Regions from separate parts of the Homo sapiens genome. Here region 1 is linked to region 2. A link means that fine-mapping ties the variant in region 2 to the expression of a gene that starts in the linked region. Tissue or cell type: whole blood. Region 2 holds a variant in brackets; the other region holds the start of a gene. All regions are shown on one strand. Distances are between the middles of the regions.

The links. PIP is the estimated chance that this variant, and not a neighbour inherited with it, causes the effect.
Region 1: RAP1GAP2 starts here. The variant in region 2 is fine-mapped to the expression of RAP1GAP2 in whole blood (TOPMed, PIP 0.96).

Annotation. Positions count from the first base shown.
Region 1 is chr17:2,793,881-2,799,025 of GRCh38, reverse strand. It overlaps RAP1GAP2 (RAP1 GTPase activating protein 2), which reads right to left and starts at 2,588. Exons shown (of 25, transcript NM_015085.5): 1 at 2,455-2,588. The coding sequence starts at 2,498.
Region 2 is chr17:3,042,565-3,047,709 of GRCh38, reverse strand. No RefSeq gene overlaps it. Among named protein-coding and RNA genes, the nearest start is that of OR1D5, 18 kb to the left of the region's middle. The variant CTT/T (reference allele first, on the strand shown) is at 3,044.

The DNA.
Region 1 (5,145 bases), 250 kb after region 2:
CCCCCACTGACACAAGGGGAAACTGAGACCCAGAGAGAGGAAGTGTCCCATTAGAGTTCCTCAATGGTCAAGGTGGAGTCGGCGCTGGAACCGCTGGAACCGGGGCTCCTGGTGCGTGCACCTCTGACCGCTGTCGGGTCAGCCCCGCCCACCGCACCACCTACAGGCACCGTGGTCACAGCAGCCCTGGTTCAAACCACGCCTACACAGCAGCCAGCCCACCAGAGTTCCCACATCAGGGTGTGGCCTCAGGAGGGCAGGGCTCTGGTTTTGGAGAGGCTGAGATGGGAGATGGAGAGGACTGTGAGGCTGGGCCTTTCCCTTTCAGGAAGCCAAGGCTCCTGGGCACTCCTCCCTCTCCCATCCCATCCCACCCACCCTCATCACCTTGTCTGCCCCTGGTGCCAGAGGTTATCCACCCTGCATCCAATGGAGCTTGGAAAACACCAGCCCCAGAGATTCTGTTCACTGTCTGGAGGGACCAGGGCTCCAGGAATCCGTGACACCCCCTCCCAGCTGACAGCCATCCCAGATGAGGAGGCCCAAACCCCAGTCTCGCCCCCTTTCTTGCTGCCTTAACCTTCCAAGCCCAGAAGGCCCCGCCATCCCGTCAACCTCAAGGGGCCCCAAGCAGACACCTGCTGTGTGCAAAAGACCTCGATGAGTCCACAAGCATCGACTGAGCCTGTGTGACATGCCAGGCTTCCAGGTGAACGCGACGGGGCAGGGCCTGCCCTCCTGGAACCCACAGCCTAGTGGACACTGAGCCAGCACACAAGGGCGTCTGGGACATCCTAGGGCTCTTCCTCCACCTTCGGCTCACCCTAGACCTCCTGAATCTGAATGTGCATTTCATTAAGGAAGCCCCAGTGAGAAGGGCTGCTAGAGAAGAACTTGGAATTCTGCTTTCTATCTTGGCAGCCCTGGGCAGCCACACTCCTGTCTTCCCCCTCACCTGCCCAGATTCAAATCTCAGGCCTGGCTTTGCCTTGTGCTCTGGAGCTGTGGGTCTCAACACAGAGGGCTTCATATGGAATGAAGCTAGGCTGAGACCGGGACCTGTGCACCCGGAGCTTTCTGGCGACCAGCCTTCCATCTGCTCCACACCTCCCAGAGAAAGGCGGGCCTTGGAGGGCACAATCTAATTGCTGGGCCCTGCCCTGCAAGGCCCACAGCCAAGACACACACACCCCTCCCAACCAGAAGCCAAGTCCTCTGCTGCCTCCCGGACACTGGCACCTACCCTCGGGGTGGCAGCTCCCAGATCCAGGCGTCAGGGAGGGCCCGAGAGCAGACACAGGCGACGCTGTGCCATCTTCTCATCCGCACCATCCCATCTGCCAAACATGGAGTGCCCACAGTCCCCCCCTGCCAGAGGATGGATGGCAAAGTGCTTTTGAAGAGGAGGAAGAGGGAAATAAGCCACACACACGGAAGCGAAAAATTACCGAGGAACACAGCCCCTCTCCCCCTCGCCCTTCGTGCCACCCCCATTAGTCCACCATTTTCCACACCGGGACACCCCCCGGCCACCTCCCGCGGGGCCCTCTCCCAGTCTGACAACGCCCCCAGCCCAGGCACTGAAAGGAAACCGATCATGAAAACCACCAGACTCTGTTCCCCAGCTGCGAAGAAGCTGCCAGCACTGGGAACCAGAGACAAGCCTTTGGCCTTCGTGTGCCTACCTTCTGCCCCCCGCCGGGAAGAAAAAGCACATCCCTCATCCCAGACAGAAGCTTAGAGGCAAGAGTGTCCAGAGGGCCAGGCAGGAGGCTGGGGACAGATGCAGCTGCTCAGGCTAGGACAGAGCTAGGGTGGGCTGCCTGGGGTGCAGGTGGGAGACCTTCTCTCACAACCCACCCCCAAGACAGCAGGCAGCCCAGAGGTCCAGCAGGTACAGACTCCCCTGCCACAAGGCCACAACAACAGCACAGACAGGAGCATCACACACACAAACACGCAGACACAAGCACACACAGACACAGAAGGCCAGAAGTGCAGACAGGCAGCTGCCCACATGCACAGGCACACACCTCACACACGGTCACACGGACTGGCAGTCACAGCCACACACACACGCCTGCACACACAGGCTCAAACGCGCACACACACACTTACACATAATCCCAGACACGCACACACATACATGGGAACCTGCGGACACAGAGACACACACATTCAACTGCAGTCACACTCATGCTATCCACCTCCCCACGGGCAGCCGGCGCAGACCTCCAGGATTCGCCAGCAGATTGTGCCCAGGGACAGTGGGGAAGGCTTACGGTCTCTGATGTCCCCACCAGGATCCTGCATCTCGACCTGCCAGGGCGTCAGCAGACCCAGCTCTCAGGCACAGCCCGAGCCCCTCTGTTCCCACGGCCGCCAATGCACTTAACAAGACTTCACTTCTAAGTTCTCTCCCATCATTCCCCCACCCTCCCACCTGTCACCCACCATCCGAAGCCCCCAAAGGAGACACTGCGCTTCCGGCCAAACATGGTTGTGGCTGCAGAGCCCGGGGTCCCAGCGATGTCCCAACGACGTCCCCGGGGCTGTCCGCAAGAGGGCCGTGGTACAGCGGGGTCAGTGCCGGTGCAGGGCGGGGAGCCCAGCGTGGCACCTCCCTCTTCGCCTGCCCCCAACCCGAGCTTCCTGTGGGTGAGGCTGCAGAGCTGGGAGGTGTGTCCTGCACTCCAGGAGGCACCAAGATAGGCCGAGGAGGTTGTGGAGGGCAGCTTCCCCACACCCAGAGGAACCCACAGCTCCGGAAGGGGCTCGGCTGGCAGATTGCTCCACAGCCCCAGTTAGCAGCCCGGCCCACACAGCCCCAGCTTCCTGGAACCCAAAGGCGCCCCAAGGATTCCCACAGCCACGCCTAGGAGGGACAGAAAGATTCAGCTGGAAGCCTCAGGGACGCCTGAGCACTGGGGACCTTCACACCCACTCCCGAGGGCTGCCTGAGACAGGGACCTTTGCCTGCCTGCCCCACCATGGCTCGGCACACGCCAGAGGAACCAGCCACACACATGTCATTCCACTAGCACACGTGGATGTAAGTATACATGCACACGCATGGGCACAGGGGCACGTGGGATGCACACATGGACACACACACGCCCAGGATACCCAGGTACACACAGATACATGCACGCAGACATACGTATCATTAGACACCTGTACACACCTGAGCACAGCGCGGCACACACGCTCCCGTGCACATCCACACACCACTTCACACAGGCATCAGTAGACACACCTGCACACGCTTCTCACATACTGACAAAGCCCCATTGGACACGTGCACAGACATGAACGCATACACATGTGCCCGCAGGCACTCATCCACATACTCAGACCACATCACACTGCAAGGGGCATTCGCATGTACACACACATGGGCACAGAGCTGTACCTGTCAGCCGCCCCCCACCCCCGCCGCCAAGTGTCTAGACAGAGGTCAGAGCAGTGGCATGCTTCACGCTGGCTGTGTGGGGTGGGGGGGCGGTACCCATGTGCGGGTGGATTTGTCTTCCCAGCTGAACCGCAGGGTTCGTCCTCATCTCTGCATGCTCAGGTGCTGGTCCTCATGCCACAGGGCTAGCGTGTCCTGCACGCATCCCAGTCTGCACACCACAGGGCCAGTGCTCATCTCTGCACGCACTGGTGCTGACCACACCTGGTACACAGCAGGCACTTACTAATGGCAGCCCCTCAAAGGGATGTGGCACGTACACTACAACAGACACTGGGGGGAGTGGGCACAGATAGGGCCCCAGGCCCCACCCTACCCCCAAGCAGTGGAGAAAGGGAAGAAAACGTCTCAAAAAAAAAAAAAGAAGAAGAAGAAAGGCCGGGTGTGGCGGCTCACACCTGTAATCCCAGCACTTTGGGAGGCCAACGCGGGTGGATCACCTGAGGTCAGGAGTTCGAGACCAGCCTGGCCAACATGGTGAAACCCCATCTCTACTAAAAATACAAAAATGAGCCAGGCATGATGGCAGGTACCTATAATCCCAGCTACTCTGGAGGCTGAGGCAGGAGAATCGTTTGAACCTGGGAGGCAGAGGTTGCAGTGAGCCAAGATCATGCTGTTGTACTCCAGCCTGTGCAACAAAGAGCAAAACTCCATCTCAAAAAAAAAAAAAAAAAAAAAAAGGAAAAAAACGGCCCTAGCTGGTGCCATTGGCCTCTCTCTCTGGCCAACCCTCCCTGAAATTTCCTCTCTGGCACCTGCTGCCACTGTGAAGGTCCTAGACTCCGTGCTGAGGTGCCAGGGGCCAACCCCAGCTTGTGGACGAAGGGTACAAGGATTTCTATTTTCTTGACTCCTTCACAGCAGGGGACAGCACAGGGGCCTCAAGCCCTGAGTGGGCTGGGGGAGCAGCTTCAGGGTCCTGGGCCAGAGCAGGGCTGGGGGCTGACTCTCTACCTCCAAGGCAGCTAGTCCCCAGCAGGAGCCCGGAGGCTTCCCCCAACCCTCACCTCTGCCCCAGGAAAGTTAGGATTGTGTGGTTCATGCTCTGGGGTGGCTTCAGGCTGCTGGCTTCCCACAGGATGGCCACTGCAGAGTGCCACAAGCGCCTCTCTCCCCAGAGGCACCCACCCACACCCAGGAAGTGCTCAACAGGTACCGTGGACAACTTGGGTCCTGCCTGCCCTGCCTCCATCTGAGAAGAACCCTCTGCACTCAATCCACCTCCAGGGTCAGGAGTGGGCACCTGACCAGGCCTGGCCAGCCAAGGGGACTGGTTCAGGAGACCTAAGTAAACCCAACAAGACACCATCCCAAGAGGCTTCCCCTGCTGAAGCATGAGATGAAAGCCTGGGGCTGTGGAGAGTGTGGGGAAAATGAAACCGACTCACAGGAAGGCAGAGAAGAGAACTGACAGAGAAAGGGAAAGAGGAGAAAGATCATGTCTTTTTTTTTTTTTTTTTTGAAGAGTCTCGCTCTGTCACCCAGGCTGGAGTGCAGTGGCACGGCTCACTGCAACCTCCACCTCCCTGGTTCAAGTGATTCCCCTGCCTCAGCCTCCCACATATCTGTTTACAGGCGCCCGCCACCACGCCCAGCTAATTTTTGTGTTTTTAGTAGAGACAGGGTTTCACCATGTTGGCCAGGCTAGTCTCGAACTCCTGACCTCCGGT
Region 2 (5,145 bases):
CAAAAATTAGCTGAGTGTGGTGGCAGGCGCCTGTAATCCCAGCTACTCTGAAGGCTGAGGCAGGAGGATCACTTGAACCCGGGAGGCAGAGGTTGCAGTGAGCCGAGATCACACCACTGTACTCCAGCCTGGGCGACACAGCGACACTCCATGTCAAAGAAAAAAAAATTTTATATATATATATATATATATATATATATATATATATATATATATATTTCTACTGGAGTACATAAAAAGAAAACTTGAAATAATAGAAAGATATATTTGTGAATAGGAAGTTTCTATGTAATAAAAATGTCAAATCTCCCTAAATTAAAACTTTATCGTGACCCTAAGAAAAGTTCCAAAAAGACTTTGGAGAACTAGAAAACTTGATCTTAAGTTTATATGGAATTATAAGGTTCCAATAAAATCAAAGAAATAGCATAAAATGCCCCTAACCTGAAGGTCACATATATCAAGGTTAAAGAATCATTGAAGGTCCAAAACAATGAAAGCAATTGTTTAAACTCATGCCAAGATATATCAACAAATTTCAGATCAACTGTATATACATTCTATTCTCTTATTGTTAGTAATAATTTTCAATGGACATTCTTTGTGTTTCCAAGTATGCAATCATAACATCTGCATATAATGAAATATTTGCCTTTGGTCTTGCAGGGAACAGGTTGTTTCCTGCACAACATCTTTTAAGTCTTTGATGCTGGCATATGCGGATCATAAATACTTCCGGGAAAAAAAAAACAGATCAGCAAAAAAAAAAACATGATCAACTACAAAAGCTCAAGAATCAAAATGGTAACTCTGGATGCTAGAAGACAGCGGAGTGATGCCCTCAAAATTCTGTGGAAATAAATATTTTCAACACAGAATTTCCAGCCAAACTAGTCATCTAGTGTAGGGGAGAATAGAGACATTTTCAGATGTGAAAGGACTTAACACATTTGTCTTCCATCCTTCCTTAAGAAGCTACTGGGGGGTGAGCTCCAGCAAAACTCAGGAGTAAGTCAAGAACAAGGAGTTCATGGGATCCAGAAAATCACAGATGTTACCCAAAAAAGAAGTCTGGGGAATACAGCTGTGCTAAGCAGGCCTAGAAAGTAACAAGGCCAAATTGAAGCAAAAAGAAATCAGGCTCCAATGAGTTTGGTACCAGGAAAATAGTAGCCCTCATAGAACATAAGGGAAAAAATGAGACTGTGTATATGAGGAAGAAGGCAAATTAAAGTGAAGGTAATTAGTCATTCCAGGGAAAACGTAAAGTTGTACAAGAAAGGACATAAAATTCTACTTAATTTTATAGTAAACAAGATTTATATCATTATAATGACCAGTATACTGACTGCCACATAACTCAAAATACTGTTATATTTTGGGAAGATGAAGAAAGGGAATAGGGTTAAGAGAACTAATTCCATCACTAGTCATTACAGAAATGCAAATAAAAACCACAATGAGATACCATCTCACACCACTTAGAATGGCGATCATTAAAAAGTCAGGAAACAACAGGTGCTGGAGAGGTTGTGTAGAAATAGGAATGCTTTTACACTGTTGGTAGGAGTGTAAATTAGTTCAACCATTGTGGAAGACAGTGTGGCGATTCCTTTAGGATCTCCATTTGACCCAGCAATCCCATTACTGGGTATATACCCAAAGGATTATAAATCATTCTACTATAAAGACACATGCACACATATGTTTAGTGCGGCACTGTTCACAATAGCAAAGACTTGGAACCAACCCAAATGCCCATCAATGATAGACTGGATAAAGAAAATGTGGCACATATTCACCAGGGAATACTATGCAGCCATAAAAAAAGGATGAGTTCATGTCCTTTGCAGGGACATGGATGAAGCTAGAAACCATCATTCTCAGCAAACTAACGTAAGAACAGAAAACCAAACACCATGTGTTCTCACTCATAAATGGGAGTTGAACAATGAGAAACAATGGACACAGGGAGGGGAATAACACACACTGGGGTCTGTCGGTGGGATGGGGGGCTAGGGGAGGGATAGCATTAGTAGAATACCTAATGTAGATGACGGGTTGATGGGTGCAGCAAACCACCATGGCACATGTATACCTATGTAACAAACCTGCACGTTCCGCACATGTACCCCAGAACTTAAAGGATAATTTAAAAAAAAAAAAGAAAATGTAGTATATATAACCATGGAATACTACTTAGCCATATAAAAAGGACAAAATATGTTTTGTGCAGCAACTTGGATAGAGCTGGAGGCCATTATTCTAAATGAAGTAATTCAGGAATGGAACACCAAATACCATATGTTCTCACTTATAAGTGGGAGCTAAGCTATGGGTACGCAAAAGCATACAGAGTGGTATAACGAGCTATGTAGACTAAGAAGTGGGAGGGTGAGAGGGGGTGAGGGAGAAAATACTACATATTTGGTACAATGTACGCTACCTGGGTGATGGATGCACTAAACTCTCAGACTTCATGACTATGCCGTTCATCCATGTAACCAAAATCCACTTGTACCCCAGAAGCTATTGAAATTTAAAAAAAAAAAATTTCAACCAAAATGCTCTGGTGCATAGAAAAATGTTCTTATAAGTTCTTGTGCTGTACCATTTAATTTTTTTTTCGGTTTTATTGAGGTACAACTGACAAAATTGTATAAATGTTGTTTTAAAAGTCAGCAGGAAACAAAAGTCAGTAGAAGCTTTTGCAATGTCGGTTTTACTTTCGCGTCACTGCTACTCTTCCCATGTTCATGAAATGGTCAGGTATTTTAGGTTATCAGCATAACCCAGGTTTCCATACACCACTTTTGTCTTTAATAAACAGGGTTCTGTAGTAGACACCCATTGGGAACGTGCCAGCTCACAAGAACCCTTTAACAGCCCCCCATCACCCACAGGGCTATCTGTGGCACCCACAAGTCCAGCCCACTGGGTGGAGTTGATCAGAGTAGGAGGTCATCACCTGACCCTCTTGGGCTGATCAGAGTCTCCCTCATGGGACTCTGGAATAGAACCAGACACTAGCCCTGGACTCCCT[CTT/T]AAATGAGGGAGATGTGGATTCATGTGATACAGAAAGGTTCTCCCCAGAGAAACTGAGAAAGCTGCTCTGTTAGTCTGGGTCCAATCAGGAGAGAGAAGCCACACAGTAACTTGCATAGGAAGGTTTCATATAAAGAATTCTTTAGCAGGGGATTGGAGTACTGAGGGATTGGCTACTAATAAGCGAAGACAACTCTAACAGATACAGGAATAGCGGAAATAAGGAGCAGCCTCCACCCCTAAGGGTAAGATAGAGCATCCAAGGAAGAGCTGCCCGCCCCCACCGCCAGGACTATGCTACGATCCAGCCCTGGATGGCCTTGGGTCACTGGATGGAAAAGTCGCTGTGGTGCCACACCAGTAAAGCATACTGAAAATCCACCCTCTGTTCATGGGGAGGTGTCTCACTGGAGGTACTGTGCTGCAAGACCACTGGGGCACTGTGGTGGGGACCAGCAGACAGGAAGGAGTTGCTGGCAGGAGAAGCAGCTAGCCACGGGGCGCGGCTGTGTGTCATGCCCTGCAGGGGGTGGGCACTGGAGAGGCTGGGGATGGGCAGGGGAGGGGTGCTGGAAAGGCTGTGTGCCCTGAAAGAACCTGGTGCTGGCAGAGGTGCCCACCCTGCAGGAACCAGACCCCCAGATGCAGCATGTGCTACAAGAGCCAAGTGGGAATTAAGAGGTTGCCAAGCAAGCACGGGAGAACCGGGAGATAAAACTCTGTCCCTCCTGCAGTGTCTCTCTGGCGCCCTCTACTGACAAAGCGCAACACGGTGCCGCTGACAAAGGAAACATATTGAAGGGCCCAGATCCATTTTCACAGTCCAGACAGTGAAGGGAAAATCTGGTGCTGAGATCAGCTCAGCTGGTCCTCAAGGAAAGAATAAAGCTACACAAAAAGTCATCCCAAATCCATAAAGACAATGCCAACAACCCAATAGAAAGAAAATAAATACAGAGAAGCACAGAGAAAAAAGCAGAAGCCAAAAAAAAAAAAAACAGAAAGCAGAGGCAAGAGACTGCCTGAGGGCTGACAACCTTTGCTGTCCTTCATGTGGCACAGATGCATCCCTGTCCTTTGATTCCAGGAGACACTCCTGTATCTTTTTAACAAATGCTCCCCTTTTTGGCTTAAAGTAGTTTGAACTGGGTTCAACCCCTGCAACAAAGTCATCGTAGTTAATACTAGCTGGCAATAAAATGTCACTAAATTAAAATCTCAGATAACATTAACATTGCTGAGTCCTTGTAGTAGGTTACAGTTGTTTGTCTCTGCTAGAGTTTTATCCTTCCTAGTTTTAGAAACTCTCTTTCTTAGTGGAAAATTCTGTAACTAAAAAAGGTAAAATCGTTTCCATTATATTCACTATTGCACTTTCAGTGGCATAGTTGGATTTTATCTGGACCCCATTGTCCATATTCCCTGGATTTTTCCTCATATTTCTTACTAGTGATAAGTTCTTATAAAACCCAACAATCGGCATTTTAGAACAAGGCCATAAAGACTTCCTTGCTGGTCTAATATTTAATTTTTTAATGGAATGTCTTGCAGGAGGATCCATAAAATTCATTTGACCCAATAATTTGAGCAAGCGTTCTACCATCTTTCTTATGAAGTGTCTGTGCCTTTCCTAGTACAGCCTCACTGGTGTGTGTATGATCATTCATTTGTACATTTTTATGTGGAGCTGGTTATGTTGCAGTTTGTTTTTATTAGTCCTTTGATATGAGCTGCTTTGTGTTATTATTTCACTCGATGGAGTCACTCATCAACTCATCCTTTTTTTTTTTTTTTTTTTTTTTTCTTTTCTGAGATAGAGTCTCGCTCTGTCACCCAGGCTGGAGTGCAGTGGTGCGATCTCGGCTCACTGCAACCTCCACCTCCTGGGTTCAAGCAATTCTCTGCCTCAGCCTCCCGAGTAGCTGGGATTACAGGCTCCCGCCACCACGCCCAGCTAATTTTTGTATTTTTAGTAGAGACGGGGTTTCACCATCTTGGCCATGCTGGTCTTGAACTCTTGACCTTGTGATCCACCCGTCTCGGCCTCCCAAAGTGCTGGGATTACAGGCGTGAGCCACCGTGCCCAGCCCTGAACTTTCC